Linked DNA regions of Homo sapiens: regions 2, 3 and 4 are each linked to region 1. Evidence: fine-mapped expression QTL. A gene starts in region 1. Each other region holds a variant in brackets. All regions are shown on one strand. Distances are from middle to middle. Region 1 holds the start of GCM1 (glial cells missing transcription factor 1). Region 2 has its middle 44 kb from the start of GCM1. Region 3 has its middle 58 kb from the start of MIR5685. Region 4 has its middle 41 kb from the start of MIR5685.

The links.
Region 2: its variant is fine-mapped to the expression of GCM1 in whole blood (TOPMed, PIP above 0.99).
Region 3: its variant is fine-mapped to the expression of GCM1 in whole blood (TOPMed, PIP 0.91).
Region 4: its variant is fine-mapped to the expression of GCM1 in whole blood (TOPMed, PIP above 0.99).

The regions. Positions count from the first base shown.
Region 1 is chr6:53,145,046-53,153,237 of GRCh38, reverse strand. GCM1 (glial cells missing transcription factor 1) reads left to right here and starts at 4,397. Exons shown (of 6, transcript NM_003643.4): 1 at 4,397-4,484; 2 at 7,470-7,680. The coding sequence starts at 7,606. It also overlaps the pseudogene LOC124901513.
Region 2 is chr6:53,188,508-53,196,699 of GRCh38, reverse strand. No RefSeq gene overlaps it. Among named protein-coding and RNA genes, the nearest start is that of GCM1, 44 kb to the right of the region's middle. The variant G/A (reference allele first, on the strand shown) is at 4,408.
Region 3 is chr6:53,215,039-53,223,230 of GRCh38, reverse strand. It overlaps the pseudogene RNU1-136P. Among named protein-coding and RNA genes, the nearest start is that of MIR5685, 58 kb to the left of the region's middle. The variant G/C (reference allele first, on the strand shown) is at 4,700.
Region 4 is chr6:53,231,912-53,240,103 of GRCh38, reverse strand. It overlaps the pseudogene HMGB1P20. Among named protein-coding and RNA genes, the nearest start is that of MIR5685, 41 kb to the left of the region's middle. The variant G/A (reference allele first, on the strand shown) is at 4,438.

The DNA.
Region 1 (8,192 bases):
TGCACTCCAGCCTGAGTGACAGAGCAAGACTCTGTCTTGAAAAAAAAAAAAAAAGTCCACAGTAGAAGAACTGGGCAAATGGCTGAAACTAGATAGGGTAGATACCAGAAGGATAGAACTGTAAGTGTAGAAGTTCATCCATTAGGTAGAACAAGGTATCTTTTAGGCTGTGAATTGGAAACCGCAGGCAATAGTCTAGGCAAACTTGTCAGCCCTGAGAGTCTGGCATGGTCACCCCAAACCAAAGGCAGCACAATACTGCTCCCTCCCTGGTTCCCGAACATGTAGAAATATGAAGGTGTGGGTTATGGTTGATATTGTGACTGGGATGTTGCTGGCATCTTGCGTCTGGGAATTCTGTGCATGGGACAGTCTGACCCAAATAATTATCCTGCTTAAAATGCCTAAAGCACCACTATTGATGAAAAAAAAACCAGAATGATCTCAATAGGCAGGCCTCAGAGTGTCAGGGAATGCAAAAGTAGAGATACTGAGAAATCCAATCATTAGTGGTTGAGGTCAGTTACCAAGTAATAGGGCCTCTAGCCACCTGGCTTAAGGCAGGATTCCTGTCTCTAGGGGAGGAGGCACAGGGTGGAAAGAGTGATGTAGAACTCAGATTTTATAGGAGTGGAGACAAAGACTCCAGATGCTGAACACATAGGGCTCTTCATGCAGTACCGTGGTCAACAGGCATGTCTCTGAGTTCTACCCCAGCTCTGCTACTTACATTTCTGTGTAAAGCTATTTGTCTGAGCCTTGATCTCCTTCTCCACAAAGGAGGCATAATAAAAATAGTATCTATCTGATAGGGATGCTGTATGGATCAAGAGTGATAATACAGACAGGTGATTAAGCATGGCGCCTGATTCATTGTAAATGTGCAGTCAAGGGAAGCTACTATGATTATTGTTATTAATAACAATGACAGAGATCCAATTAGGAGAATTTGGCCAGGTAAGGTGGCTCACGCCTATAATCTCAGCACTTTGGGAGGCTGAGGCAGTGGATCACTGGATCCCAGGAGTTCGAGCCCAGCCTGGCAACACAGTGAGACCCTGTCTCTACAAAAAGTTTTTAAAATTAGCTGAGTGTGGTAGCATGTGCCTGTGGTCCCAGCTACTTGGGAGGCTGAGGTGGGAGGATAGGTTGAGCCTGGGAAGAGGAGGCTACAGTGAGCTGAGATTGTGCCACTGCACTCCAGTCTGGGGGACAGAGCAAGACCCTGTGTCAAAAAACAAAACAAAACAAAAACAATTAGGAGAATTTGGGTAATAAGTTGGGACCTTGGCCTCAAGAAAGCAAAAATACCCTTACTAGTCTGGACATCATGTCACACCTCTATCAGAGTGTGAAGGCAGAGCTTCTCAGCGCCCTCCTGTGTCCGAGTAGGGTTGGTGCTTGGGACAAGGATGGCTGTGATGTTGCTGCTGGAAACTCAGCAAGTCTTTCTATGAGGAGAGGGAAAGTAGAAGATCCCAACTTGGCCGTGAAAGAACTAGCAGCCTCACTGGGGAGCCAGAACCAACACTCATCAACAATGAAAAGCAATAGCCTGATGTGGTGGCGGGCACCTGGAGTCCCAGCTGCTTGGGAGGCTCAGTGGGGAGAATGACTTGAACCTAGGAGTTTGAGTCTACCCTGGACCACACAGGGAAACCGTATCTCCAAAAAAAGCAAAACAAAACCAATCAACCAAACAAACAAAACAAAACAACTAAAGGCAATATCACGTAAAATAGGATTGCAAATAAAAATAATATCTTTTGTTCTATATGGGAACAAAAAGATATGGGAAAACAAAAGTTTGAAAGGACATGCCTGACATGTTAACAGTGGAAACCTATGGGAGATGAGAATATGACTTTTTTATAAATCATGAATTTATTTTGTAATTTAAAAACACTGTTAGATCCAAGTGATACAAGACAGCATATAATTCACAGTTAAGAGTTCAACATGGCCAGGCACCGTGGCTCATACCTGTAGTTCCGGCAATTTGGGAGGCCAAGGCAGGCGATTTCTTGAGCCCAGGAATTCAAGACCAGCCTAGACAACATGGTGAAGTCCCATCTTTACAAAAAATACAAAAATTAGCGGGACGTGGTGGTGAGCACCTGTAGCCCCAGCTACTTGGGATGCTGAGGCGGGAGGATCACTTGAGCCCAGGAAAGCGAGACCATAGTGAGCCATAATCACACCACTGTGCTCCAGCCTGGGTGACAGAGTAAGACCTTGTCTCAAAAAAGAAACAAAAGAGCATCACAGAAATGAGGAATCATGTGTTCTTGAATAGTGTGGGAAGCTCTCATAAGGAGGTGGCATTTTGGGGATCCTGAAGGGTAGACAGGGTTCAGATATATGGATGTGAAAAATACACTAGAGAATAGACCTAAGTAAGTGAATAAGCACAACAGGTGTGCCAGTGATTGACTTATTGCCTGTCGACACTAAATCCACTCTTTACTCCGCTTGTGATTCTGGACCTAGACCCTGTAGACATCCTCTTTCACCAGCTGGCATAATTTTAGGCTTTGTCCTGATACAATGTATCTGATGGATGGAGAAATGTCCTCCTGACCAACAAAGGGATTACAGAGAGGAGACCAAGACTGGCCAGATAAAGTACAATAAGATCAAGCAGGGTTGGTCAGGCGTGGTGGCTAACGCCTGTAATCCCAGCACTTTGGGAGGCCGAGGCGGGTGGATCACCTGAGTTCGGGAATTCAAGACTAGCCTGACCAACATGGAGAAACCCCATCTCTACTAAAAATACAAAATTAGCCGAGCGTGGTGGTGTGCGCCTGTAATCCCAGCTACTCAGGAGGCTGAGGCAGGAGAATCGCCTGAACTCGGGAGGCAGAGGTTGTGGTGAGCCGAGATAGTGCAATTACACTCCAGCCTGGGCAACAAGAGCAAAACTCCGTTTCAAAAAAAAAAAAAGATGAAGCAGGGTCTTAAACTTCAGGCAGGAAAGGAATTTGTTCATGAACTGAAAGACGAATGAGAAATCTATTAGGGGCCGCCGAATGCAACTATGAGGCTTTCCAAGCCTTTTGCCTTCTCGCCTTCTCATCTCTGCCTCCTAAGCCTCATCCTTGAAAGTCTGGACCTTCCTGACAGGTACTGATCCCTCGTCATGTTGTCCAGGATATTGTCACTCCCCGAAACACCCTCTTCCAGTCCTTCACGCCTTGATAAATATCTATTTGTCCTTCAAAAGGCTCATCGAGCATTATTTTGGTGGGTTTCCTTTGGTTCTCCTCCCTCCAGCTTAATAGCCTTCTCATTTATATTACTTTTATTCTATACATCAAATTAAATCGGCCTTATTTAGTAGCTTTAATCATCTTTTCTACTAGAATGAACTTCTTAATGGCTTTCATTCTCTCTTGTGTTGCCAAGGCCTGGCAGACTACCTAGAACAAAACATATGAACTGAACTGATTTAGGCTGTACTGCGGATGTCTCTAAAAGGAAGAATAGCACTGAGGGTATCTCTAGAAGAAATAATTGGTTTTTGTTTGTTCGTTTTTTTTTGTTGTTTTGTTTTGTTTTGTTTTTGTTTTTTTGAGATGGAGCCTCGCTCTGTCACCCAGGCTTGACTGCAGTGACGCAATCTCAGCTCACGCAACCTCCGCTTCCCGGGTTCAAGCAATTCTCTGCCTCAGTCTCCCAAATAGCTGGGATTACAGGCGCTCGCCACCACACCTGGCTAATTTTTGTATTTCTAGTAGAGACGGGGTTTCACCATCTTGGCCAGGCTGGTTTTGAACTCCCAACCTTGTGATCCGCCCACATCGGCCTCCCAAAGTGCTAGGATTACAGGTGTGAGCCACCACGCCCGGCCAAGAATTGTATATTTTTAGGGGATCAGAACACTTAGAATTAGTGGGACATTATTGCTAGGGTTAAGATAGCATTTCAGTATTTCTGGTATAGAGGATGTTGGCTATCCACTGTCTATTCCAGTAAATTTCCTCACCATAATATCTCTCTATCTCTGTCTGTCTGTCTTCTCTCTCTTGCACACATGAGAGAGAACTATTACCTGCCGGGTAAATAGTGGGAGAATTAGGACCTACTGTGAATCGTCTGCCTGGGGCCCAACCTGTAACATCACAAGAAGAAAAACATCTGTACTTCCTTATGAGGTTCTTTTCAATGTCCATTTTAGTTCAAATGTCCTCATAACATAAAGGGAGGGGGAAGTTCAGAGACACATCATAGAATATTCATCACATTGCTGGCATTCTGGGAAGAATCAGGCTGGTTAAGTGACTCCCAGGCTGCTCTTACCTATCCAGAGCCTAGAGCATCTAGATTTTGATTGGACCATTGCCAGAACTCATTAGCATAGTGTACCCTGACCTGGAATAGGGAACAGCGTCTGCTCAGAAAATGACCAGAGCCTGCTGGGACTTGAACCAGCAGTAAGATTTTCACGACACAGTGCTGTCTGCTTCTCCGTAAGAAGTTAGAAGGTAAGAAAGCCAGAAATCCCGTGGAGAGGCAAATGTAAGGGATGTGGCAACGACCACTCTATTCCTACAGGGTTTCATTTGTTCTAGTTCATTTTTCTGTAGAAATGATGAAAATTGAATATACTTTGCGCAAGTTGCTTTAAAAAAAGGAGTCTTGACAAGTGTAGTTTTTCAATCCTAGAAGAGGAAAACAGAGTTTACTTAAGGGCTGTAAAATGGTTTTTTCTTCTTTTCTATGTTTTGTTCTTAACTTTTAGGGAAATATTAAATTAATGCTCATTCGCTTAGCAAATGTTAATATCGAGAGAAAAATCTAAAATGTAACATAGTTGTTCTGTAATAAAATTTTCTTTATTATTCTTCCCTTAATTTAAAAACAAAATAATTATGTCTATATTGCCTAGGCTTTATAACAATGTTTTTGATTTTTGAAAATATGAATCTTATTTGCCAAGGTTTTTAAAAAGTAGATCTATTCCAATTAGTTATAACAAAATTTGCACCATCAGAGACAATATCGTTACTGTTCAGGGTAAGTACACGGAACTGCTGCTTGGTATCTGCATCTTCTATACCTGTTATTTAAGTCCTTTGAATTAGAGTCAATTTGCGGCATCATTTCTTCAGTAACACAATGTTTCTTTCCTAAACATAGAATTTTACTTAAAATCCATGAGGATTTAGTCTTGAAAATCAACATTCAGTTGGGGAACAGAAACTTCGTGCTCTGCAACCACTAGGTTGTAGCTCAGTATGGGTATGTGGAACAGACAGGAAGAGACTCTGATTAGCTTGTCATTTAATGGTCAAGAACTTTATTTATAAAGACTATACTTTCAGGGATCATTTCTATAGTTTGTTACTAGAGAAATTTCTCTGGACATCTAGAGCACACACAAAAAAGAAAAAAGGAACTTCATTCTTATGTTCAGGTCAACGGTCTTTTATATACATACACTTTCCCTTGGTAGAGTTCAGTGATTGACAAGTATTAGGATTATATAACACTAAATAACTAAAGAACAGGCCGGGCACAGTGGCTCATGCCTGTAATCCCAGCACTTTGGGAGACAGAGACGTATGGATCACCTGAGGAAAGGAGTTCAAGACCGGCCTGGTCAACATGGTGAAACCCCATCTCTACTGAAAATACAAAAATTAGCTGGGTGTGGTGGTGCGTGCCTGTAATCCCAGCTACTTGGGAGGCTGAGGTAAAAGAATCACTGGAGCCCCAGAGGTGGAGGCTATGGTGAGCTGAGATTGCGCCACTGCACTCCAGCCTGGGTGATAAGAGTAAGACTCCATTAAAAAAAAAAAAAAAAAAAAAACAATAAAAACTAAAGAAAAGAGTTCATGGGTCTCGCCAAAGCTTAGACTATTAATCTACCTTATAGTTTGAGTTCGCTATTAAATAGCTCTACATAACATCATTATGTCTCTTGTTTTTATAAGAGTACCAATAAATGAAATGTTATACATGTGAACATGTTTCACTTCATATCGTACTAACAAGTAGCTTTCATCTGCAAAATTATTCATTTTTTTCCTCAGGGTAGAACACTTCAAATTTTCTTTCTTTTTTTCTTGGTAAACCTCCTTTAACCAATTATAGTTAGAAATTAGAGCACTATTTCTCGTGAGGGAAGAAATGCCATTTGAACAAACTTTTATTTATTCATTCATTTATTTATTTATTCATTCATTCATTTATTTATTTTTTGAGACAAGGTCTCACTCTGTCACCCAGGCTGGCATGCAGTGACACAATCTTGGCTCACTGCAGCCTCAACCTCCTGGGCTCGGGTAATCCTCCACCTCAGCCTCCCAAAGTAGCTGGGACTACAGGTGTGCACCACCATGCCCAGCTAGTGATTTGTACTTCTTGTATAAACACGGTTTCTGCATGTTTCTCAGGCTGGTCTTGAACTCATAGACTTAAGTGATACATGTGTCTTGGCCTCCCAAAGTATTGGGATTACAGGCTGCTAGCACCTAATGGGTAGAGACCAGGGATGCTGCCAAACAGTCTACAACATGAAAAAAGCTCCCCACAACAAAGAATTATCTGGTCCAAAATGTCAATAGTGCCAAACTTAAGAAACCCTGTTTCAGATTAATCAGATATAAGCATATTAGTTGATAATATTTGAAGATATATCGTGCGCACAGGATTTATTGCAGAGACCAAACCTAATCCTTACAGTGATTTGGATTTTCAAATATATTTTTTTTCTGGCCGGGTGCGGTGGCTCACGCCTGTAATCCCAACACTTTGGGAGTCCGAGGCGGGTAGATCACTTGAGGTCAGGAGTTCGAGACCAGGCTGGCCAGCAGAGTGAAACCCCATCTCTACTAAAAATACAAAAATCAGCTGTGCGTGGTGGCACATGCCTGTAATCCCAGCTACTGGGGAGGCTGAGGCAGGAGAGTTGCTTGAACCCAAGAGGCAGAGGTTGCAGTAAGCCGAGATCACTCCATTGCACTCCAGCCTGGGTGAAGAAGTGAGACTCCATCTCAAAAAAAAAAAAAAAAAAAAATATATATATATATATATATATAAAACATATATGTATTTTCCTAGATAAATTCAGTGTGATGTTCCCCTCTTGCAGCTTCAACCACACATTAGCTAATTTATAAAGGCATTTCTATGGAAACAACTCCAAGCCAGTATCCTCCTGCCCTAGCAGGAAAAGTCCTAGCCATTGGTTACAGATGACAACTGTCTCTGCTAAGGCCTTCACAACCTGGATCTTGCAATGAGAAAGCAAGCCCAAACCCAAGGGTGAAAGCAGTGATCACACGCTTCTAATTCCCGATGGCCAAGTTTTAAGTAAAATCACTTATGGCTCCTATGTTTTGTTTTTTACTAGTATGTTGGTACTTGCAAAAATGTCAGTGAAACAGGTTTTTCTGGCAGAGGAGCATTGGGGTTTTTTTTTAAATCTCTTTAATGGCCAATACTAATATAACTTATTTTTTTAGCCCTAGAAAACAATCTCCTGGTCCAAGGTGCTTGAGTGGGCCGATCCAGCTATATCAAGAACCTTTGAGAACAAAATTCTCAAGCATTTCTGAGGGGAGTCGAATAGGTGAAAACCTTGGCTGGCCTGACCTTATCATGGAACCTGACGACTTTGATTCTGAAGACAAAGAGATATTAAGCTGGGATATTAATGATGTGAAACTGCCACAGGTATGTACTTGCTATAAAAATCTGCCTTCAACATTGGGCTGTGAAGTCTTGACTATTAACATGCGGAGACCTGGAAGGAAATTGGTGAGGATTCCAGCTGGGTAAATTCCTCTCCCCTAGAGTTTCAGCTAGACAGCCGACTGAGGGATTTTAAGAAGAGATGGCAAGACCTATGATTTGAGTGTGTCTTTACTTACCAGACTCCCACACTTAGAGACTGATGCAAAGAAATTTCTACTTCCCTTCTCTTTCAAAGTTGGCGTAACTCAGGTTGCACTCACTCTGGCTAGACAGTATGATAAAATCCGTGATGATTTATTTGGCCATAAATTGACTCTTTGTTATGCACAAGTCCTCATACAACCTTATTTGCTATAGTGATAGTTTTAACTCAGATTCATGTCTAAATGGAATGTGCTGGAATCCAGATGATATTGTTCTCTTGTGGAATACAGCATGCTCTTCTTCCTTTTTTCTTTTTCCTCTTCTTTCTTCCCTTTCCTTCGCCTTGC
Region 2 (8,192 bases), 43 kb before region 1:
TGAGTGCCAATAACTCCACCATTACCCTGCTAGCTATGAAAATGTAACGTGAGGCTGGGTGCAGTGGCTCACGCCTGTAATCCCAGCACTTTGGGAGGCCAAGGTGCGCAGATAACGAGGTCAGGAGTTCAAGACCAGCCTGACCGAAATGGTGAAAAGCCATCTCTACTAAAAATACAAAAATTAGCCAGGCGTGGTGGCGTGAGCCTGTAATCCTAGCTACTCAGGAGGCTGAGGCAGGAGAATCGCTTGAACCCAGGAGGCAGAGGTTGCAGTGAGCCGAGATCGAGCCACTGCACTCCAGCCTGGGTGACAGAATGAGACTCCATATCAAAAAAAGAAAAAAAGAAAAAGAAAATGTAATGTGATAAATATTAAATACTGTACTTGTAACTGCCCAAGTGGTTCACCTTGCCTGCTGCCTAGACACAGCTGATTCATCAAGACAGAGGAATTGCAATAGACAAAGAGTAATTCAGGCCCGGCGCGATGGCTCACGCCTGTAATCCCAACACTTTGGGAGGCCGAGGCAGGCGGATCACTTCAGGTCACGAGTTCGAGACCAGCATGGCCAACATGGTGAAACCCCATCTCTACTAAAAATACGAAAATTAGCTGGGTGTGGTGGCGTGCAACTGTAATCCCAGCTACTGGGGAGGCTGAGGCAGGGGAATCGCTGGAACCCGGGAGGTGGAGGCTCCAGTGGGCCAAGATCGCACCACTGCACTCCAGCCTGGGCGACACAGTGAGACTCTGTCTCAAAAATTAAGAAAAAAAGGAAAATTTATATGACATCGTAAAATGAAAAGTATTTGCCACAAATAGAAAGTAACTTTAAAATAAATACCACAGAAATAAAACAGTATTCTTAAATCTAGTTTAATACCTTTGCCTGCTGAAGGGTGGGATCTTTTGTTAAAAGGATAATTAACAAGTGTTAGGGATCTTCTCCTAAATTTAATCAGAATGACTGGAGGAACACTGAGTCATTGTTACTTAGTACAATTATTGTCATACCTCTTTTAGGGTCTGTTTGCACTTTAATGAAGCAATTGGGTGCTTGGCTGAAGAGAAAAAACTCTCTCAAAGTTGTTTTTCAGGTGCTAGGGCTGGTGGGGGCAGGAAAGGTAAGGCGCGCATGCCTTAGGGTTAGGTCTGGGTGATCAGGTGGTGTTTTCCTGAAGATAATACATCCTACGGTATCCTAAAGTGTCTGGCCCCACAGGTAGAGATTCAGGTATGTGGGTGACAGACTACTCATTCCCAGGCCTGAACACAGCCCCATAGCTACTCATACAGATATTCAAGCAGGAAAAAGTATGCTTTCTCTTTCTTTTTTTCTTAATAGAGACAGGGTCTCCCTATGTTGCCCAGGCTGGTCTTGAACTCCTGGACTCGAGGGATCCTCCTGCTTCAGCCTTCCAAAGTGATAGGATTACAGGCGTGAGCTACCACGACTGGCCACCTCTCCCCTCCCCTCCCCTCCCCTCCCCTCCCCTCCCCTCCCCTCCTCTCCCCTCCCCTCCCCTCCTGTCCTCTCCGCTCCTCTCCTTTCCTTCCTACCTCCTGCATTTGTTTTCCTTTTCTCTTCTTTCTTTTCTTTTATTTTCCTTTCTTTCTTATATTCCTTCCTTGCTTCCTCCTTCTTTTCTTTCTTTTTTTTTTCCTTTCTTTCTTTTCTTTCTGGATCTCACATCTGTTTCCCAGGCTGGAGTGCCACAGCATGATCTCGGCTCACTTCAGCCTTGACCTCCTGGGCTCAGTGATTCTCCCACCTCTGTATCCCAAGTAGCTGGGACTACAGGCGTGCGCCACTGTGCCTAGCTAATTTCTTATATATTTAGTAGAGACAGGGTTTGCCATGTTGCTCAAGCTGTATTTTCTCTCTTTCTACTGGAAATATTTACTAGGGAAAGGCAGGAAAAAAGACTACAACAAAACTGACAGCAAATGAACTGCTGCAGAAGTGAACTGTCCAAACTGGCCTTGCAAGTTTTCCCCTTCTAATTTAGTCTTTGTTCCTTGCTACAGTTACTGTCACTAACTATAACCAAAGATCTATAGAAGATACATCTATTAATGTTAATTTAGTCTTTGCTCCATGCTACAGTTACTGTCACTAACTACAACCAAAGATCTAGAGAAGATACATCTATTAATATTAGTCTTTGCTCAATGTTACAGTTACTGTCACTAACTACAACCAAAGATCTAGAGAAGATACATCTATTAATGTTAATTTAGTCTTTGCTCAATGCTACAGTTCCTGTCCCTAACTACAACCAAAGATCTAGAGAAGATACATCTATTAATGTTAGTCTTTGCTCAATGTTACAGTTACTGTCACTAACTACAACCAAAGATCTAGAAAGGATACATCTATTAATGCTACAATGTAGTCAAAAGAGCTCTAGATTTGGAAGCAGGAAATCTGAAATCTGTTCCTCCTTTAGCATTTCTTAGCTGTTATGATTACCTTGAGCAATGTATCCCTTGCCTGATCTTTCTCATTTTCCATTAAATCTTCCATTTTCTACCCCTTAGGTGAACAGATTTGCCTTTGACGGCCCAGTGAGCTACTCTTTAAGATGAGAACAACAATATTTTATCCTGTCATGGAAGGCAGGGGACTGGACTAGTTAATTTCTTGTACCCATCAGTTCTGGGATCATAAAATCCTATGAATTAGAGAAAACCAACTGTATGCTGGTGCCAGACTCTTGAACATGAAGCAAGTATGCAACAGACCAATGTTTCAGCATGTGCCTGCCCACATGACAAACTGTTGTTTATAGAGCACCAACTATGCACACAATAATGATGATGACAAGTCATTTTTGAGTGTTTACTCCTCACAACAGCCCCATGAACTAGTTTGTATCATTATCCCCACTTAAAAAATATAGAAACGGAGGCACAGGGAAGCCAAGTCATTTGTCCACAGCACAAAATCAATAAGCAGCAGAGATGACTTTGAACAGAGACCATCTGTTGAAACTGACTGCAAAGAGGCACAGGGAATTTTGAGGGGTGATGGAAATGTTTTTTTATTATAAAATTAAATGTCAAAGGTGGAGAACTGTTTCCCAGAGAGCAGTTTCGAAACTATTTGTAGCTAAGTTTAATTTGTTATATTTTATTTTTATTATAAATTTTTTTTTTTTTGAGAGATGAGGCCTCACTGTGTTGCCCAGGCTGGAGTGCAGTGGCATGATCGTAGCTTACTGCGGCCTCAAACTCCTGGGCTCAAGCCATCCTCCCACCTCAGGCTCCCGAGTAGCTGGGACTACAGGTGTGTGCCACCATACCCAGTTGGAAATGGTCTATGTCTTGATGCAAATGCTCTATATCTGGGTGGTTATAAAACTATAGAACTGTACACCTAAAGAGGGTGAATTTCACTCTATGTAAGTTATATTTTAATAAACCTGACTTTTAGGACAAACGAAAAAACAGAACGAAGAGCAAACAGAATTTAGAACAAACAAACAAAAAAACCCAGAATGAAGCCAAGAGTTAAGGAAGAGAGCAAGGGAGGGAGGTTGGGAGGAAGGAAGGAGGGGAGGACTCTGCAGAGCAGGCTGGAAGCTAGGAAGAATGCCCTGTATGTGCTGACCAGGCAAGCACAGAAGTCGCCTGGAGAGCCACGCCTCTGCTATCTGTTTCCATTGCCTCAGGGAGAAAAACAAAAAGATAATAAATTCAGCTTCTCTTTTTCTTTTGTTGATGGCCTTCTCCTTTCACCTTTGTTTTGTGATTTCGCTTCAGAGGGCAGTCTCTCTTTTTCAACTCAGTTCCAGCTGCTGAAAGTGAAGGCCTAGACATTTGATCTCCTCTTGATTTGACCAGAACACCCTGTTCGAGAGACAGGACAAGCAGTAACACAGGGGTTTTGGCAAAGAATCGGACTGTATTGATCTAAGTAAATGAATGAATACATTAGTGTTTTTGCTGCCAGCAATCTGGTAAGAACTCTTAAACACATCCAGCAAGGGTTAAGTAGGAAACAATGGTGTTCCCTTGCCAACATCCACTGCAGTGTGTGGAGAATTATTTTCAAATTTCTATTTTGGATGCAGGCAGGAAAGGGGACAAGGTTTGAAAAATTATGCTCACTACTTGGGTGATGGGATCATCCGTATCCCAATCCTCAGCATCACACAATATACCCATGTAACAAATCTACATGTATCCCCTGTATCTAAAATAAGAGTTAAAAAAAAATTTAAATTCCGTTTTGGCAAATGCATTTCCTTTCCTATCTCACTAGACTGGAGCCTCTGACCCTCTCAGGACACCCCTCAGGCAGGGGAGTTTCCTCATCACAACCTGTTTGTTTCATCCTGAATTACAGCCCTAAATCCTTTGCTGAGTTGCCATTTTCATTAAATCAAAGTATACTTGTTA[G/A]AGACTTAAAGTTGATTAAATAGCAAAATAAACCACTTATCTTCCTATACATCTTCAACTCCCAGAGCTAGTTGTGACAAGGGTTTTGGTGGCCACCAAGAAACCACACTATAAGAATTTTAGAAGAGAGTTACTTTCATTTCATATTTAAATTATTATTATTATTATTTTTTTTTTTTTTTTTTTTTTTTTTTTTTTTTTTGAGACGGAGTTTCACTCTTGTTGCCCAGGCTGGAGTGCAGTGGCGCGATCTCGGCTCATTGCAACCTCCACCTCCCAGGTTCAACTGATTCTCCTACCTCAGCCTCCCAAGTAGCAGGGGTTATAGGCATGCGCCACCATGCCTGGCTAATTTTTTTTGTATTTTTAGTAGAGACAGGGTTTCACCATGTTAGTCAGGCTGGTCTCAAACTCCTAACATCAGGTGATCCACCCACCTCGACCTCCCAGAATCCTGGGATTACAGGCGTGAGCCACCGCGCCCAGCCAAATTGTTTATTTTTAAAAATGTTTGAATGTGTAATTCATTCCTATGTCTAAAAAAACTAAGAGAAAATTACAGAGTGAAGTTTCTTTCTACACTTGTCCCCCATCTACCCAGCATTCCCTTCCTAAAACAAGTTTCTTTTTTATTCTTCCAAGGATTTTAATGCATATGAATATCAATATTTATTTACCGAAGTATATACACCTAGAGGCCAGGTGCAGTGGCTCACGCCTGTAATCCCAGCACTTTGGGAGGCTGAGGGCAGGAGTTTGAGACCAGCCTGGCCAACATGGCAAAACCCCGTCTCTACTAAAAATACAAAAAAAAATTAGCTGGGCATGGTGGTGGCAGGCGCCTGTAATCCCAGCTACTCAGGAGGCTGAGGTGGGAGAATTGCTTGAACCCAGGAGGCAGAGGTTGCAGTGAGCTGAGATGGTGCCATTGCACTCCAGCCTGGCCGACGAGCGAAACTCCTTCTCAAAAAAAAAAAAGAAAAAGAAAGCTTTACCAGATTCTTTTCTCTCTCTTTCTCCCATTTTTTTAACTTTTATTTTAGGTTTATGGTACATGTGCAGGTTTGTTAAATAGGTAAATTGTGTGTCACAGGGGTTTGGTGTACAGAAAATTTTGTCCCCAGGCAATGAACATAGTACCCAATAGGTATTTTTTCTGATCCCCTCTCTGCTCCCACCTTCCACCCTCAAGTATGCCCTAGCGCACCTGTTGTTCACCTCCCAGTGTCCATGTATTCTTGTGCGTAGCTCCCACTTATAACTGAGAACATGCAGTATTTAATATTCTGTTCCTGCATTAGTTTGCTTAGGATAATGGCCCTGGCTCTATCCATGTTGCTGTGAAAGACATGATCTTGTTCTTTTTTATGGCTGCATAGTATTCCATGGTATATATGTAATCACATTTTCTATTTTTTTTTTTTTTTTTTTTGAGACAGAGTCTCGCTCTATTGCCCAGGCTGGAGTATAGTGGCACCATCTCGGCTCACTGCAACTTCTGCCTTCTGGGTTCAGATGATTCTTGTGCCTCAGCCTCCCTAGTAGCTGCAACTACAGGCATGTTCCACCATGCCTGGCTAATTTTTTTTTTTTGAGACATATTTCACTCTTGTCGCCCAGGCCTGGGCAACAGAGCGAGACTCTGTCTCCAAAAAAAAAAAAAAAAGATAGAAAATGTGGTTACATATATACCATGGAATACTATGCAGCCAATAAAAAAGAACAAGATTGGCTGGGCACGGTGACTCACGCCTGTAATCCCAGCACTTTGGGAGGCTGAGGCAGGTGGATCACGAGGTCAGGAGATAGAGACCATCCTGGCTAACACAGTGAAACCCCGTCTCTACTAAAAATACAAAAAAAAAAATTAGCCGGGCGTGGTGATGGGCGCCTGCAGTCCCAGCTACTCTGGAGGCTAAGGCAGGAGAATGGCGTGAACCTGGGAGGCAGAGCTTGCAGTGAGCCGAGATCGTGCCACTGCACTCCAGCCTGGGCAATGGAGCCAGACTCCATCTCAAAAAAAAAAAAAGAACAAGATCGTTATTTTAAGCAAACTAATACAGGAACAGAAAATTAAATACTGCATGTTCTCAGTTATAAGTCAGAGCTACACATCAAGAACACATGGACACTAGGTGGTGAACAACAGGCGCTGGGGTGTACTTGAGGGTGGAAGGTGGGTGTCCATCTACTAGAAATATATAAAATATAATAATATACAATGTTATCAGAAGGTGATTTCAAGGGATTGGGAAGGATCCTGTGTGGCTTTGGCCAATATTGGCCATTTTGACCATTATTGTAGTTTACGTTAAAAATAACTAACATTTTCACAGAGCCTTAGAGTCTTAGAGTTATTGCATACTTATGTTATTCCACCTACATTAGTGGTGGAATGAGGCAGGAATGTATTATCATTTTTATTTTACAGATGAAATGCAAGGAGATTAAGTGACTTGTCCAAGAGCTAAGTAGTAAATGGGGTTGCCAGGAGTTGAATTCCAGTTGCCTGACTTGATGTCTAGCATAAAGGCAGCCAAGCAACTATATGATTTAGCTATGTAATGTAACCCTTTAGAGCCCACACCTTGCAAGCTCTGTGCCATAGCTTTTAGATTAGTTGCTTAAAACTGAAGCCAAGCTTTTCAGTGGCAATGATTTAAGTTGCTAAATATAATCATGACTCTCAAGAAAGTTATATTTTAACTTTGTATGATCTAGTTTTGTGTTTTTTTGTTGTTTTTTTTTTTGAGACGGAGTCTCCCTCTGTCGCCCAGGCTGGAGTGCAGTGGCATGATCTCGGCTCACCGCAACTTCCGCCTCCTGGGTTCAAGCAATTCTCCTGCCTCAGCCTCTTGAGTAGCTGGGATTACCGGCATGTGCCACCACGCCCGGCTAATTTTTTTTGTATTTTTAGTAGAGACGAGGTTTCACCATATTGGTCAGGCTGGTCTCAAACTCCTGACCTTGTGATCCACCCAACTCGGCCCCCCAAAGTGCTGGGATTACAGGCATGAGCCACCACGCCTGGCCCTAGTTGTCTAAAACTTTGAACAGGTCTTTAAAAAATATATTCTGTTGATCTACTGTGGATCAATATAAAGACATTTGCTAAGGATCAGATCCCATGTAATATCTTACACATTGGGTATAGATTAGGCTGGAACCTAGTTCTTAGATTCCTACTCAGTTATTTCACTAAATGAATACTTACTTAATTATACTTAGTGAATATTTTACTTAATTATGCTTACTAGGCAGAATAGTAGGAGATGTAGCTCTAACCTCTAGTGACATATTTTAATAAACAGATCACAGCCTGGGTAACAAAAGCAAGACCCTGTCTCTACAAAAAATATAAAAAATTAGCCGGGTGTGGTGGTGCATGCCTGTGGTCCTACTTGGGACCCTACGGTCCCAAGAGATCTGGAAGGGTCTCTTGAGCCCAGGAGTTTTAGGCTGCAGTGAGCTACTGCACTCCAGCCTGGGTCACAGGTGAGATTCTGTCTCTAAAACAAAAACAAAAACAAAACCAGATCAGACATACCAGTATTATGGTTCTTGGTGCTTTTGGTGGAGCTTCACCTTGGTGGGAGGAGTTCTAGAGACATCTCTTCTGCAACTGATTCCTGAAAAGGGATGACAGTAGCCCTCCCGCTCCCTTATCCACAGGGGATAAGTTCAGAGCCTGAAACTGCCCATAGCACTGAACCTGATCGCCATCAAGCGGAACACAGTTCTGTTTATGACCTCCACCCACACATTTCAATGTTTTTTTTTTCCTT
Region 3 (8,192 bases), 70 kb before region 1:
CCCACAGGGCCTCAGACCCAGGGCTTATATCATGGGAAAAAAGCATAAGTACCCTGGAAAGAACATGTAGGTGACTTTGGGGGTCACAGCATATGATTTCTGCAATGAAGGTTGTTTTGGAAGAAATGTACAATGAATAGGTGTTCCTACATAAGGAGTAATACATCAACTACATATTTTGGAGGCATTCCTGGACTCAGGCTTAGTCAGGCAGATTAGCAGTTAAAATAAAGTCAGTCTTGTCCCCACATGGGGGCTGCTAGAGTTCTTGTAAATGCTCTTATCATTTTTTGGTTCAGGTTGTCATTTGTTTTCTCCAACAGTTCCACTTTCGTGGGGACTGCCGACTTTCTGCTTGTTTGCCGTTTCTCTGGCTATTGGGTCCCTTAGGTATTCTTTGCTATTTTCCCTCAGTGGCTCACTCAGGCCTGGGGAGAACTTACAGTGGTAGCATCTTAGTCCATTTGGGCTACTGTAACAAAAATCCTGGCAGGACATGGTGACTCACACCTGTAATCCCAGCACTTTGGGAGGCCAAGGCGAGATGATGGCTTGAGCCCAGGAGCTGGAGACCAGCCTGGACAACATGGCAAAAACTCCATCTCTACAAAAAATACAAAAATTAGCCAAACATGGTGAAGCATGCCTATAGACCCAGCTAGTCAGGAAGCTGAGGTGGGAGGATCACTTGAGCCTAGGAGGTCGGGGCTGCAGTGAGAGGTGATTGTAGCGATTGTACCATTGCACTCCAGCCTAGGCGACAGAGCAAGACTCTGTCTCAAAAAAAAAAAAAAAAAAATCTCCTAAATTAGATGGCTTATAACAGTTTATTTCTTACAGTTCTAGAGGCTGGGAATTCCAAGATCAAGATGTCAACAGATTCAGTGTTTGGTGAGGGCTCACTCTCTGCTTAATAGACGGCATTTTCTATCTGTGTCTTCACATGGCAGAAGGGGTGAATGAGCTCCCTTTGGTGTCTTTTATAAGGGCACTAATTCCATTCATGAGGGCTCCATCACCTCCCAAGGTCCCACTTCTTAAAACAATTGCACTGGGGATTAGGTTTCAACATATGAATTTGTCAGGGAGGGATACAAACGTTCAGACCATAGCAGGCAGCAGTACCATGAGTGGTGGAAGGAACACTACTATCTCCCCACATGGTTCAGCTGTGCAACCACTGCCCAGCTGACAGAGCCCACCTGAACACAAGGAGGAAGCCTCTCTCTCCCCAGTCTCCTCAGCTGACTGGCTGTAGGCCTTGCAGGTAGAAAGAGCTTAGCTCCCTCACTCCTTGGCATGGGAGAGCAACCTCTAAGGAATTATTGAGTGGACAAGCACAGCTCCTCCCCCAGGGATCAACAGGCCTTCCCACCTCAAGCATCTAGAGTTTGGTCTGATTCTCACCCCAGGGCTTCTCCGTGGCTGATCTTCAGTCCTCAGCAGACTCAAGTAAGAAAAGTAACTGTGCCTGCTTTCTCCTGTGGAGGAGGGTCCCAGGACCCACCATTCTCTGGGCTCAGGAAAAGCGCAGTGTTTGGATTGGAGATGTGGACAAAGGCAACCAGTATGAGTTAACGCTGCCATGTGCCTAGCGGCTCACAACTTCATCTATTGCCATTACCAAAACTATTATTAAAACAGTTGCCTGGGGCCGGGTGCCGTGGCTCACACCTGTAATCCCAGCACTTTGGGAGGCCAAGGCAGGCGGATCACCTGAGGTCAGGAGTTCAAGACGAGGCTGGTCAACATGGCCAAATACCGTCTCTACTAAAAACACAAAAATTAGCTGGGCATGGGGTTGGGTACCTGTAATCCCAGCTACCAGGGAGGCAGAGGCAGGAGAATCACTTGAACCCTGGAGGCAGAGGTTGCGGTGAGCTGAGATCACACCACTGCACTCCAGCCTGGGCAACAGGGCAACATTTCGTCTCAAACAAACAAACAAAACAGTTGCCTAAAAAATTTACTGAACATTTAAATAGATAATAACTTTAACTTAAACTTTTCAAAATACACATAAGCCCACAATCCTAACGAAAATATTTTCATTTTTCAATGTCCCTTTCTGATCTTTCTCGATTTGCGGGAGATTTTCACATTCTGCAATCGGAGTGCATGTCCAGGTGGTCCTGCCTGGCATCCGCTTCTCTGTGCCGTAGCAGCATGATAACCATGCTAATGGCTGCATCAACAAGGTTTGGAAGCATTCTATGTGTCTGACAATAGAGGAATACCTAAATAAGCAGTCATACATCCATTGTAGGTGATTATTTTCCAGCCTTTATTTTAACAATTTTGCAAATTTTTTTTAATCAGCAACAATTATCCCATCCCCCACTCCATCCCACCTAGTGTTCTTGTTGACTTACCTCTTTAAAGTAAGTGGGTGAGCATTCATGAGCAACTTCCTTTTTCATTAGCCTCTTCTATATTAGACCTCAGAACTATCTTGAGAGCCATTTGACAGTCTCAACTCTGGCCAGGCCATGCCCTCATGGTGACAATCCTGGAGGAAGGATGCTTTAATTTAGCAGAATGAATTCCCTCACTGTGTTCCATGGCCTGGTTCCTCAACTGTGGCTCATCTGCAGCCCTGGATGATATAAGCCTGGTATATTTTTATGCCTTGTGGAATTTCTCCCTCTACAGCTCATTGGTCTTCTTTTTCCAGCTGCAGAAAGGCTGGGCACAATGGCTCCCACCTGTAATCTCAGCACTTTGGGAGACCAAAGTGGGAGGATTGCTTGAGCCCAAAAGTTCAAGACTAGACTGGGCAATGAAGTGAAAACTCATCTCTACAAAAAAATCAAAAGCTAGCCAGGCATGGTGGCGTATATCTGTGTTCCCAGCTACACAGGAGGCTGAGGCAGGTGAAGCACTTGAGTGCAGGAGGTTCAGGCTATAGGGAGCCATGTTTGCACCACTGTACTCCAGTCTGAGCAACAGTGAGACCCTGTTTCAAAGAAAAACAAAAACAAAAACAAAAAAAACATTGTTTGTGTCTGGCCACAGTGGCTCACGCCTGTAATCCCAGCACTTTGGGAGGCTGAGGTGGGCGGATTACTTGAGGTCAGGAGTTCAAGACCAGCCTGGCCAACATGGTGAAACCCCATCTCTACTAAAAATACAAAAAAAATAAATTAGCCAGGTGTGGTGCTCCACACCTATAATCCCAGCTACTCAGGTGGCTCAGGCATGAGAATTGCTTGAAGCCAGGAGGCAGAGGTTGCATTGAGCTGAGATCATGCCACTGCACTCCAACCTGGGCAACAGAGTGGACTCTGTCTTAAAAAAAACAAAAACAAAAAACAAAAAAACATTGTGTGGTAGTGAGATGAGTTGCTTGCCAGCAATGTGGGTCTATATACACACCTCTGAGCAGGCTGGGCTGCCTTTTCCACAACAGCCCTCTATCCCCACTCCACCCCACATTGCCCACCCACTAAAATTCACAGCCACATCTGAGACTATCTTTGGTTTCCAGATCTAAGCCATTATCTTCACATTTTCAGGAAGAATAGATTCTTGAGGGTAGCAGAGCTCTCTTGGGCATTTCTGGTCAAAAACATATAGTTTTATCTTCTTTTCTCTATAGGAGAATTTCACCCAATATAATTAAGATTTCTCCCTTGTCAACAGCTGCAGGGTCCAGCATGCCTGTCACTGTCCAAGCCTTCCCAGAATCTCTGGTCAAAGGTTTTAGGGCAGTGCAGTCTTCTCCTAGTACCGCTTCTTCAAGCACTCTCAGAACTTGGTCTTGTCTTGTCTTTTCTTTTTTTTTTTCTTTTCTTCTTTTTTTTTTCCGGCGGAAAGCGTGGACACAGTCCCCCATTAACACAAATTATGCAGTCGACTTTCCCACATTTGGGGAAATCGCAGGGGTCAGCACATCCGGAGGGCAATGGATGAGACTCACCCTGGGAAAACCATCTTTGTGTTCATGGTATCTCCCCTGCCAGGTAATTATAGAACTTGGTCTTTTCTTCTCTGATCCTGGTGCATCTTTGCAGGAAGCAAAGAAGCTGGGTGCAATTTTCCTTCTCAGCAGCTCTAGTGTCCTAGTCCAAGTGCTGTCTGTCACTATTATGAATCAAGTTACAGGCAGTCTCAGAATCAGGTAACATTGTAATCTGGCTGTATTTTAAAATATGGTTTGAGATGTGTCTAACTCCTGTCAATGCTTGATAAAAGTGAATTCTTCATTATGAATCTTGAATTTCAGTCTAGGCATGAAACTGGACTCCATCTCAAAAGAGTTGACTGTAGTTGATTTATTCACATCCTCAGTCCACTCTTACGAGGCTTTCCATGGCATCCCTCTACTAAACAGCTCCTACTGAGGTCATCAGTGACCTACCTATATCTTGCCAAAGCCAATGGTCCATTCTCTGTCCTTACCTTACCTCTCTGTGGGATTTGGCAAGTTGACCACTCCATCCTTCTGGAAGCCCTTTCTTCTCTAGGCTTCAGGGAACCCACCCTCCTGGAGTCCTCTCTTCCTGCTTTCATTCTTGCCATCCCAGCAGCCCCTTTTCAGATGGCAGTCTGAGTGATATTTTAAAAACATTTGCTAGGCCAGGCACAGTGGCTCACACCTATAATCCCAGCACTTTGGGAGGGCAAGGTGGGAGGATTGCTTGAGCCCAGGAGGTCGAGACTGCAGTGAGCCATGATCGCGCCACTGCACTCCAGCCTG[G/C]GTGACGGAGCAAGACCCTGTCTCAAAAGAAACAAACAAAAATTTTACTTAATCACATTGCTATTCCTCCAAAAGCTTCCAATTATGTGTTGGGTAATAACCCAGCCCCTAGCATGATTTATGGTTTGACCCTGCCTTCTTTGCTCAGTCCTCACCCACACTCTTCTGCTCATCCACCAGGCTCCAGCCACACTGGCCTCCTTATATCTGTCAAATTCTCCAGGAGCTTTCAAATTGTTGGGCCTTGGCTGGGTGCAGTGGCTCACGCCTGTAATCCCAGCACTTTGGGAGGCCAAGGCGGGTGGATCACAAGGTCAGGAGATCAAGACCATCCTGGCTAACACGGTGAAACCCTGTCTCTACTAAAAATACAAAAAATTAGCCGGGCATGGTGGCGGGTGCCTGTGGTCCCAGCTATTCGGGAGGCTGAGGCAGGAGAATGCCGTGAACCCGGGAGGCGGAACTTGCAGTGAGCAGAGATCGTGCCACTGCACTCCGGCCTGGGGGACAGAGCGAGACTCCGTCTCAAAAAAAAAAAAAAATTGTTGGGCCTTCTTCTTAGAATGGTCTTCCTGCGAGTCATCACGTGGCTGCCTCCTCTTCACTTGGGTCGCAGCCAAACATCAACTCCTCAAGAGTTTTTCCCTGTCATACCTCTTCCTTCAAGTCACTCCTTTTTCTCTTCACAGCTCGTATTATCTGAAATTTTATTCATTTATTTTCTGGAGTGTGAGTTCATGAAGGTCAGGGACTTTATCTTGTCATATTATACCTAGTACTGAAAACCGCACAGAGCAGGCCCTCAATAAAGACTCATAGGCCAGGTGCAGTGGCTCATGCCTTAATCCCAGCACTTGGGAGGCTGAGGTGGGCAGATCACTTGCAGCCAGGAGTTCGGGACCAGCCTGCCCAACATAGCGAAACTCCTATCTCTACCAAAAATTACAAAAATAACCGGATGTGGTGGTGCACACCTGTAGGCCCAGCTACTCGGGAGGCTGAGGTGTGAAAATCACTTGAACCTGGGAGTTGGAGGTTGCAGTGAGCCAAGACCACACCACTGCTGTCCACCCTGGGTGACAGAGCGAGACTCTGTCTCAGAATAAATACATACATACATATATACATACCATAGACCAGCTCTTAATTATTTTACTGTCCAGTGTTCGGGAGCCCATTCTGCTCATTATATAGACACCTCAACTAGACTGCAAAAAAAAATATAGCAAATCATTTGGTCTGTAGTTGTATGTTTAACAGGTATTAGAATGCCTCAAATTTTTTAGGTTTCTACATTAGAAATACTTGCCCATAAGCAAGCTGAAAGAAAAACGTGAATATAATTGTTGGAAGTTTCTTTTTTACATAAATGCTTCTAATTTGTGGTCAATAAGAAGGTAGGTTAAAGATTCAAGAGAAGTACAAGACCTCCCCTAACTAACCTCTGTCAGTATCACTCACTTCAGCTCCCCTCCCATTGCAGGATACCTATCATGGGTCAGGCACTGGGCTAGATGCTGGGAAATGAGTAAGACACAGGCTCTGACCTTGACTTTACACTCTGACTAGGGACACAAGCACATAAATAGGTAATGTCAGTGTAATGTGGACTGTGCTTCCAGAGGGCCACCCATGAGACACAGGGTTGGCCATTCGGTCTGTCTGGAACATGCAGGGGATATTTTCTCAAGGAGACCACCTCCATGTTTGGCCCCTACTAAGATGTATCACATTTCCTCATGGTGTTCTTGTGTTTTATAGAGTATTTATAAACCACCTGTCTGCTTTCTGTTCTTTTGAAACAAGAGGAATTTCTTTAGTTATATTTCCAAAGATTATATGATACATATGATATGATATATATGATATATCAAGTGTCTTAGTCCGCGTGGACTGCTGTAACAGAGTGCCATAGATTGAGTGACTTCTAAACAACAGAAATTTATTTCTGGAGTATGGAAAGTCTAAGATCAAGGCGTTGGCAGATTCGGTGTCTGGTGAGGCCCACTTCCTGGTTTCTAGATAAACATCTTCTTGCTGTGTCCTCACATGGCAGAAGGGGCAGGGATCTCTCTTGGGTATCTTTAATAAGAACAAGGATCTCATTCATGAGGACTCTGCTCATGACTTCATAACCTCCCAAAGACCCCACCTCCTAGTACCATCACATTGAGGATTAGAATTCAACATATGAACGTTGGTGGGACACAAATATTCAGTCTATATCATCAACATTGTTTTTTTCTTCTTGATAGCATTGCATTTTTATCTGATATAATTAGATTTTCTGCCCAGAGGCCTTTGTGAAACTTTCTGACAGTTAATTGCTAGAATGTTTTTTTAACCTTCTTACCATTGAACTTTCTGGGATGAGTCTTATATTACCCAGATCAGATATGTTCCAGGTCAGCGTATTTGGAGATGAAAGTGACCCTTTTAAAATTTCACTGAACCAGTAATGAACATATCAGTCAAAATAAGATTTTAATTATTAAACTAGACTAAGATCTTTTTATTAGAACCAGCCAAACTGTCAGTCATCAGTGTTGTTCTGTTCCATATTTAATATGTAATATTTAACCATATTTAAATACATTTAAGTTACCTATTTAAAAAAACCTTTAGACTTTCTGTCTTTTCAATTGATGCCCAGTCTTCTTTCATTTCGTGGTTATTTTCTCTGTTTTAACCATTTAATTCTAGACAATATGGCTTGCTGGTTTCTATCTTTTGCTCCACAGGCCCTCGTTTCTTTAAAGTTAATGAAATGCTCCTGTCAAATAGAAAAGTAACTTGTTAGTTCTTCTATAACCAAAGGACACTATGCTTGCCTGACACAGCCCTACAAGGGACTTGACTGTAACCATTTTCTTTGTATTGAAACTACTTTTCAGCTTCTGTGATAGTATTAATTCCTAGTTTTCCACCAAACTCACTAAGTGCTTTTCAAATGACAGAGCTGTGATGCTCTTGGAGACAGGACTGAGCTAAATGTGCAAAGAAAATAAGGTAGTAGTGGTGGGGAAATTCTGAGGAGCTGCAGCTTGCAGGAAGCTGGACAAAATGCCAAGAGAAATGAAAACTAGGTTGGTTTGGATCTAAGTAATCTCCTGAAAGAGAAAATTGTTATCAGGCATAATTTTAGGGAAACATATATAAACATATTCTTGGCTGCAAGACCCTACATGAATAGCTTCTCCACATACACACACATCCAGGCTCACACAGAAGCTCAGACCTCATGTCTCATGACTCTTGCGTTGTTCACTCTGCTACAATCAAGACAGGCCTTGGCCCCATTTGAGCCTTTGCTCTGGCTATTCTCTCTTCCTGGAACACCCTCCCCTACAAATACCTAGGGTGAATTCACTATCTTTGAGTCTTTGTCCAAATACCACATTCTTAAGGAGGCTGTAAGGGAGAAAAAGTAACATTTTCTCACCCATCACAAAGTTCTCCCATCACAAAGACCCCTATAACAAAAGCAGACCAA
Region 4 (8,192 bases), 87 kb before region 1:
AGCATAGTGATCAGTTTTCCTTTGGGGATGAAGCTTAAGAGTTCTTCACTTGATCACATAGGGCTGGGGACACCCTTGAACAAAATCCAGGTTCTGGCAACAAGGAAAACCTATGCACAAGGGTTGGGGTGACGAATGACTTAGGTACATTATCTTCTATATAAGCCATCAAGGGGCCAGCTGCACTAGCGAGAAGGGCAATAGAGGCCCAGAGAAGGTGTCGGGAAAGCAGAAGAGTCGGGGCAGGTAGGTCAGGGCCAGTTGGAGGGCCTTGGGCTTTACACACAGAATGAATAACCTGAATGAGTCATTACCTAAACCACTGTTCCTTCACTCCATTCTCCCTCCTGAGAATGGGTTATGCACCTGCTCACACATGTGACTGTTCTTTCACATCACCAGTTTGGGTTGGGATGACATGACCCAGCTGCCTCCAGAAGCCTCCCAGCCAATGGACCCAGAGCAGGCTGTGGGCAAATCAGTCAGGTGGTGGCTGCTGATTGGAATTCATCCACATTCTCAGGGTGGAGAGCAGCAGATGTGTGCAGCCTCCTCCCCTATGGAGGGGATGCTATTTGTTTAAATGGTGGTTGGTGATGCCAGAAACACTTGGCCTCATTTATCTGGATATAGAATAATCCAGCACAAATAGATCAGTAGTAGTAGTACAGCAGCGATAGTAGCCCAACCCTTTTACTTTGTAGACATAGAAAACCAAGTTCATGTTGAAGTGACTTGGCCAGGATCACAAAGACCAAACTAGAACTAAGACTGAGTCTTAAGACTCTTGCTTTGATTCTGTTTCTCATTATACCTTGTAGGAAAAGTTTCTATGCCAAATTCTAGGCCAGATCTATAACGTCATTTTTCTGAGAAACAAAACTGCTTTAGGTAAGTTGTTCTAATAGTTCCTCAAGTTCATCTGAAATCTACTAATTATGTTTGATATGGAGACTTATTTTTAATGTTGTGTAATTAGACTTGCAAGTTCCACCCTTAAAACTTTTTATCTGTTGTTTACCAACACAGGCCAAGATTCCAGCTAATAATATTTTCAACCACTTTTGTCATTCTCCAATAAATTACATAGAAAATTGTCAAGAGTAATTCCTGGCCGGTCATGGTGGCTCACACCTGTAATCTCAGCACTTTGGGAGGCCTAGGCAGGCAGATCACGAGGTCAGGAGTTTGGGACCAGCCTGACCAACATGGTGATACCCCATCTCTACTAAAAATACAAACAAACAAACAAAAAATTAGCCGGGCGTGGTGGTGCGCACCTGTAATCCCAGCTACTCAGGAGGCTGAGGCAGGAGAATCACTTGAACCCAGGAGGCAGAGGTTGCAGTGAGCCAAGATTGCGCCACTGCACTCCAGCCTGCACAACAAAGTGAGACTCTGTCTCAAAAAAAAGAAAAAGTAATTCCTTTCCAGTGACAGCAGAAATCAGAGACTTCAAGTCTCCAGTTCAAGTTCACTGGACTCATTACTTCAAAGGGAGTATAATAAGCTCCCTGAGATTATCTTTCTGAAGTAACTCTTTTCTGTCTATCAGCTGACTTGCAACTGATTGTGTACTTGACACAGATCCACATGACTCGGTGCAATGGGAATAGTCCAGCAGTTTTGAATTCTCAGATGATTTTCGCTCTTTGTTTCTTGTCTTGTTTGAAGAGATCAAAAGGGAGCTCTATCGCTGTGTGATAAGTATGTTTCTATCACTGTTTTCCATAGCTTTCCCTTCCAAGATCCATTATAACTTTGGAAATGTGGTGAAATGTGTCTTACCAGACTAAATCTGGTAAGGTTTAGTCTAGGGGTGTGTGTGTGTGTGTGTGTATGTGTGTGTGTGCATGCACGCATGCCCGCATGTATGCTAGGAGTAGGCAGAGTGGGGAAAGGAGGTAATGTGGGGGTTGCAATTGTAGCACTTGGATGAAAACATGGATGTTTAGCACACATCTACAATAAACATGATCTTCATTATTTTTAGTTAGCCACATTATTATTATACCCAGAAAAATAATTTTAAAAGCTTTCAAAGGTTAAAGAAATGATTCACAGCAGATAATCAGAATCTAAGTTGGCAGTCTGTTCAGTACCCATCACTACTTCTCCCACTAATTTTCAGATTGCCAACTTGCTATCAGTAAAACATTCTTAGTCAAGCAAACGATTTAACAATTATTTGTCCTCATCCACTTTTGCACACAGGTGAATAAGCTAATGTGGGCTGGAAACAAGATTAGAAACAAACTCTGATTAAACCATTCATTCATCAAATGTACATTAAACACTTACTATCCGACAGGTTTTGTATTACGAGAAAAGAAACAGTAAACAGGAGGCTGGGTGCAGTCACTCGCACCTGTAATCCCAGTACTTTGGGAGGCCAAGGTGGGTGGATCACCTGAGGTCAGGAGTTCGAGACCAGCCTGACCAACATGGTGAAACCCTATCTCTACTAAAAATACAAAAATTAGCCGGGTGTGGTGGCACATGCCTGTAATCCCAGCTACTTGGGAGGCTGAGGCAGGAGAATCGCTTGAACCAGGGAGATGGAGGCTGCAGTGAGCTGAGATCGCACCACTGCACTCCAGCCCGGGTGACAGAGCGAGACTCTCTCAACAACAACAACAACAAGAAACAGTAAACAGGAAAAGAAAAAAGGTTTCCATTCAGTAGAACCCTGTGCTGGAGTCCTGGACAGCATGCATGGCCACACACTGGCGAGGCACCAGTCTTGGTGTGAGCAAGGAGACAGTGCAGGAAAGCCTTCAGGAGGAGGTGATGTCGGAACTAAATGTGGAAGGACAGGTGAGAGTAGACAGACATGGAGGTAAAGGGAACAGGAGAAAGAAAGGCTTGGAGGTGTGAGGCGGGAGCGTGCATGTCAAGGACCTCACAGTTAACATGGCGGGGGGCGGGGGTGGGGTCAGCGGGGGGAATGAGAAGGATGGAGGCAGAGGGTCGGGGGCTCATGCGGGGCTGGGTTGGCTTTGCCAGGAGATCAGACTAAATCCTGATAGCCGTGAGAGCTATTGTAGAAATAATTTCAAGCTGATCAGATTTATTTGGGTTTACTGTAGGAGGGAGGAGGCTGTTTTTGTGTATTTGTTTAATCTTTTTTGGACAAGCCTTAAGATTAGTAAAGGACTATACGAGGTCCTTAATATTGAAAGAGCCAATATATACCGTCATACATTCTTCCAACATTCTCGTTATTCACGTAGTGCATTCAGATAAATATATTCTCAACAAATATTTCCTTCATTTGTAACATCTAGGCAGAGGTGGGCAAGAGCAGATAAAAGAGATGGCAAACTTTGATGACCTTCTTTATATGCCTCAAGGCCTCACCACTGATATGTCATTGAGTATTTCACACTGGCTTCCTCTGACTCTTTTCATCAAGGTCTTAACAACCATTGTGTCAACATGTGACCTTATAAACTGTACACAAGGACCCTTTTTGGGACAACATGATCATGGGAGAGAAATCTCTCCCCTTGCCTCCCTCTTCCTACCCATCTGTGCTTCTGCCTGAAGTCATCGGTATTTCAGAGATTAAAACTGTTCTTTAGGTCTTAGCCACCAGTTTTTATTTGCATGAGCCATACCAAAGAAACTGAGAAATTGCTTTTGTGGCTTGTCTACTTGGAACTTTGAAAAGAATGAACAGTAACATTCTCAGTCAGATTCAGATTTCATGTAAAACCTGCTTTAGAGAACTGAAGGATAAGACATGCTTATTTACAACTTTTAAATTATTATCCTCTCGATAGAGACAGCACCAGGGAAAGTGAAAGCCAGACAGGCACTGGGCGACTCTGTGCCTCACTGAGGAAAAATTACTCAACATGAGCAAAGGAGATCCTAAGAAGCCAAGAGGCGAAATGTCATCGTACGCATTTTTGTGCAAACTTGTCAGGAGGAGCATAAGAAGAAGCATCCAGATGCTTAGGTCAACTTCTCAGAGTTTTCTAAGAAGTGCTTAGAGAGGTGGAAGACCATGTCTGCTAAAGAGAAAGGAAAATTTGAAGATACGGCAAAGGCGGACAAGGCCCATAATGAAAGAGAAATGAAAATCTATATCCCTTCTAAAGGGGAGACAAGAAAGAAGTTCAAGGATCCCAAGGCACCCAAGAGGCCTCCTTCAGCCTTTTTTTCTATTCTGTTCTGAGTATTGCCCAAAACATCCTGGCCTGTCCATTGGTGATGCTGCGAAGAGACTGGGAGAGATGTGGAATGACACTGCTGCAGGTGACAAGCAGCCTTAGGAGAAGAAGGCTGCAAAGCCGAAGGAAAAATGCGAAAAGGGTCTTGCTGCATATCGAGCTAAAGGAAAGCCTGATGCAGCAAAAAAGGGAGTTGTCAAGGCTGAAAAAAAGCAAGAAAAAGAGGAGGAAGCTGAGGAAAATGAAGAGGGTGAGGAGG[G/A]GGAAGATAAAGAGATGAAGATGAAGAAGACAATGATAATGAATAAGTTGGTTCTAGTTTTTTTTTTTCTTGTCTGTAAAGCATTTAGCCCGCCTGTACACAACTCACTCCTTTTAAAGAAAAAAAATGAAATGTAAGGCTGTGTAAAATTTGTTTTTAAACCATACATTCTATTTTTTTGTATAATTAACACATTACCGAAATGTTTCTTTAGATAGCGATGTCTTGGTGGTATTTTTTTCTTTTTATATTTTGAGACTGAGTCTCCTCTGTCACCCAGGCTGGAGTGCAATGGCACCATCTTGGCTCACTCCATCCTCTGCCTCCTGGGTTCAAGCGATTTCCCTGCTTCGGCCTCCTGAGTAGCTGGGATTACAGGCACACGCCACCATGCCCTGCTAGTATTTTCAATAACCACTAACCTTGCCTGGTAAAGTATGGGGGTTGTAAATTGGCATGAAAATTTCAAACAGGTTCTTTTTGGTGCACAGCGCAAATTAGTTATACATGGTGATGGTAGTTTTTTTCATCTTCAGTTGTCTCTGATGCAGCTTATACCAAATAATTGTTGTTCCATTAACTGAATACCACTCTATAATTGAAAAAAAAAGTTGCAGCTGTTTTGTTGACATTTTGTTGACATTCTGAATGCTTCTAAGTAAATACAAATTTTTTTCCTTTTTTTTTTTTTTTGAGACTGAGGTTTGCTCTTGTTGCCCAGGCTGGAGTGCAATGGTGCGATCTCAGCTCACCACAACCTCTGCCTCCCAGTTTCAAGTGATTCTCCTGCCTCAGCCTCCTCAGTAGCTGGGATTACAGGCATGCACCACCACGCCCAGCTAATTTTGTATTTTTAGTAGAGACGGGGTTTCTCCATATTGGTCAGGCTGGTCTTGAACTCCTGAACTCAGGTGATCCATCTGTCTCAGCCTCCCAAAGTGCTGGGATTACAGGCGTGAGCCACCACACTTGGCCTAAATACAATTATTTTTAATAAAAAAGAAAGTATTATCCTGTCAAGAGCCACCCTAACCAGACTCAGTACAATGTTAATACACATCACCCAGAAGAGAGGGCACCTTCAGTTCGTGCCAGAGAATCTCTCTTGTCAGTAAAAAGTTAAAAAATAAAATAAAAAAAAAAATCACCCAATTTGGGCAGTGTTACCAAATGAGACCATTTTTCTTTGCAAGTTCACAAGTTCTTCTTTTTCCTTTTTTCCTTATTTATTTATTTCTCTTTTATTTTTGTTTGTTTGTTTGAGATGGAGTCTTGCTCTGTCACCCAGGCTGGAGTGCAGTGGTGTGATTTCAGCTCACTGCAACCTCTGTCTCCTGGGTTCAAGCGATTCTCCTGCCTTAGCCTCCCCAGTAGCTGGGATTACAGGCGCCCGCCACCACGCCCAGCTAATTTTGGTATTTTTAGTAGACACAGGGTTTCACCATGTTGGCCAGGCTGGTCTTAAACTCCTGACCTCAGGTGGTCTGCCCACCTTGGCCTCCCAAAGTGCTGGAATTACAGGTATGAACCACCATGTCTGGCCGATTTATTTCTTTTTTAAAGAGACAGGATCTTACTATGTTGCTCAGGTTGGTCTCAAACTCCTGGGCTCAAGCCATTCTCCAGCCTCAGCCACTGCCCCACCTCCCCCGCCCGCAATTGCTGGGATTACAGGTGTGCACCACTTAAGGTTTTGCATTTATTTTCATTTATTTTCAAACCTTTTTTTTTTTTTTGGCTCCTTTCCTGGTCATCATAGTCACATTATTAAAAAAAAGAAATAATACATTTAGATAAATCAACATTAGGAACTACTTATTACTCCCATAGAACATATTCTGTTGTTTTAGGTGCAAATATTTCCAAAATGTAACTATTTGTATGTATTTTTCCTCTTAATTTACCTGAAAGACGCTCACAAGTATTGAACTTGATGAAGGAAAATTATAATTTTCTCTTTGTGATTTTTTTAAAGAGTAGTCAGGGGTAATTTATTATAACAAACCACGAAAGAAAGTTACATTTTAAAAGTATTTTGTTGATTTATATGTCAGCAATGACTTCATCTGCCTAGTCAATGAAAGACACAAGAGTTTTAAATAAACTCCCCACATGCTGAGCTGTGTGCTTCCCTTATCCTATCACCCCAGCCTCTCCAGTTTAATGACATAAGGTGAGTAATGCTACAATCTGTTGAAGACTCAACAAAGTCACGCTTTGTAGACACCACAAGAGTTAAACTGAACTTTAATAATAACTTCAGGCTGGGGTGCCGGAGGTGGGAGAGCACCAGGAAAAACAGCTAGTGCATGTGGGGCTTAATACCTAGGCGATGGGTTGATAGGTGCAGCAAACCACCATAGCATATGTGTACCTATGTAACAAACCTGCACATCCTGCACATGTACCCTGGAACTTAAGATAAAGAAAAAAATAGGCCGGGTGCAAGTGGCTCACGCTTGTAATCCCAGCACCTTGGGAGGCCGAGGTGGGCAGATCACGAGGTCAGGAGTTCGATATCAGCCTGGCCAATATGACGAAATCCCATCTCTACTAAAAATACAAAAATTAGCTAGGCATGGTGGCGTGCGCCTGTAGTCCTAGCTACTTGGGAGGCTGAGGCAGAAAAATCGTTTGAACCCCGGAGGCGGAGCTTGCAGCCAAGATCACGCCACTGCACTCCAGCCTGGGCGAAAGAGAGAGACTCCGTCTCAAAATAAATAAATAAATACTAATAATTGCTTAAGGTTTATCTTACAATGCTGCCACTTCCCCCAACAAGTCTGGAGATTGAATGGACATGAGTTTAATAGGAGAGGGGTGGAGGGTAAGGGCTGCAATTGGGGAAATGGGTAGAGGAAGAGGAGGCAGATTGAAAATAGTTTTTTAAAATCCTGGTCACTGAGTGGAAAGCGTGCTCACATTCCTAGGAGCAGAGGGGGAATATGGGTTAAACTTAAGGGACACACTAGGAGTTAATCATTCAGGGTACAGGGTGAACGCAAGTAAGAATTCTAAAAATGACGACTTCTCCTTCAAAACTGAAGCAGTCTGCAAGAAGCAGAATTGGAGAGCTTATTAGCTTGACTCCTTTGCCCTCTGCAGCTGATGCTCCCAGTTTAAATCCTGGCACAACCCTAAAATAAGAGTTAGCTCTGCAAAGGTAAAAAGAATTGAGGACACTGAAGAATATATAGTGGCACAAAGAATATTTAGTGGCACAAAACTAGCTCACAATTCCACATTGTGTTAGGGCAGCTCTGGCCTCTGCATTCTTGTGTCTGTCCACAAAGGTAACTGAAAAGGAAGCAGCCAGGTAAGTCATTGTTGCGAGCCGTTCTCCCGTTCCACCTCTTCTCATTTTGTGGTGTCAGTTGCTTCGGAAAGAACAAGGGGAAACGAAGGGTGGCCAAAGGAAGGCATCCCATTGTGTGTACATGTCAGTTTCACATTCTGTGCCCTTTATGCCAAAGAGGCCTTTGCTAGATACCATTTCCTCCTAGTTTGCCACCAAGATGGACAACAGACCTTTTCAACAAAACCTGCAAACTGTTTTAATTAATATTGCTAACATCAGGACAGATGTTACAAGATAAATCTCTTCCTCCTTTATTCTCCTCCTTCCCTAGCCATTCCACCCTGAAACATTTTGGGGCCTGTACTAGATACTAGAGACACAAAGGAGACTAGAACATTCTCTGTCGTTGAATTATTCTCAGTCAAATGAAGACGGAAACTGTGGTCTGAAAATTTTG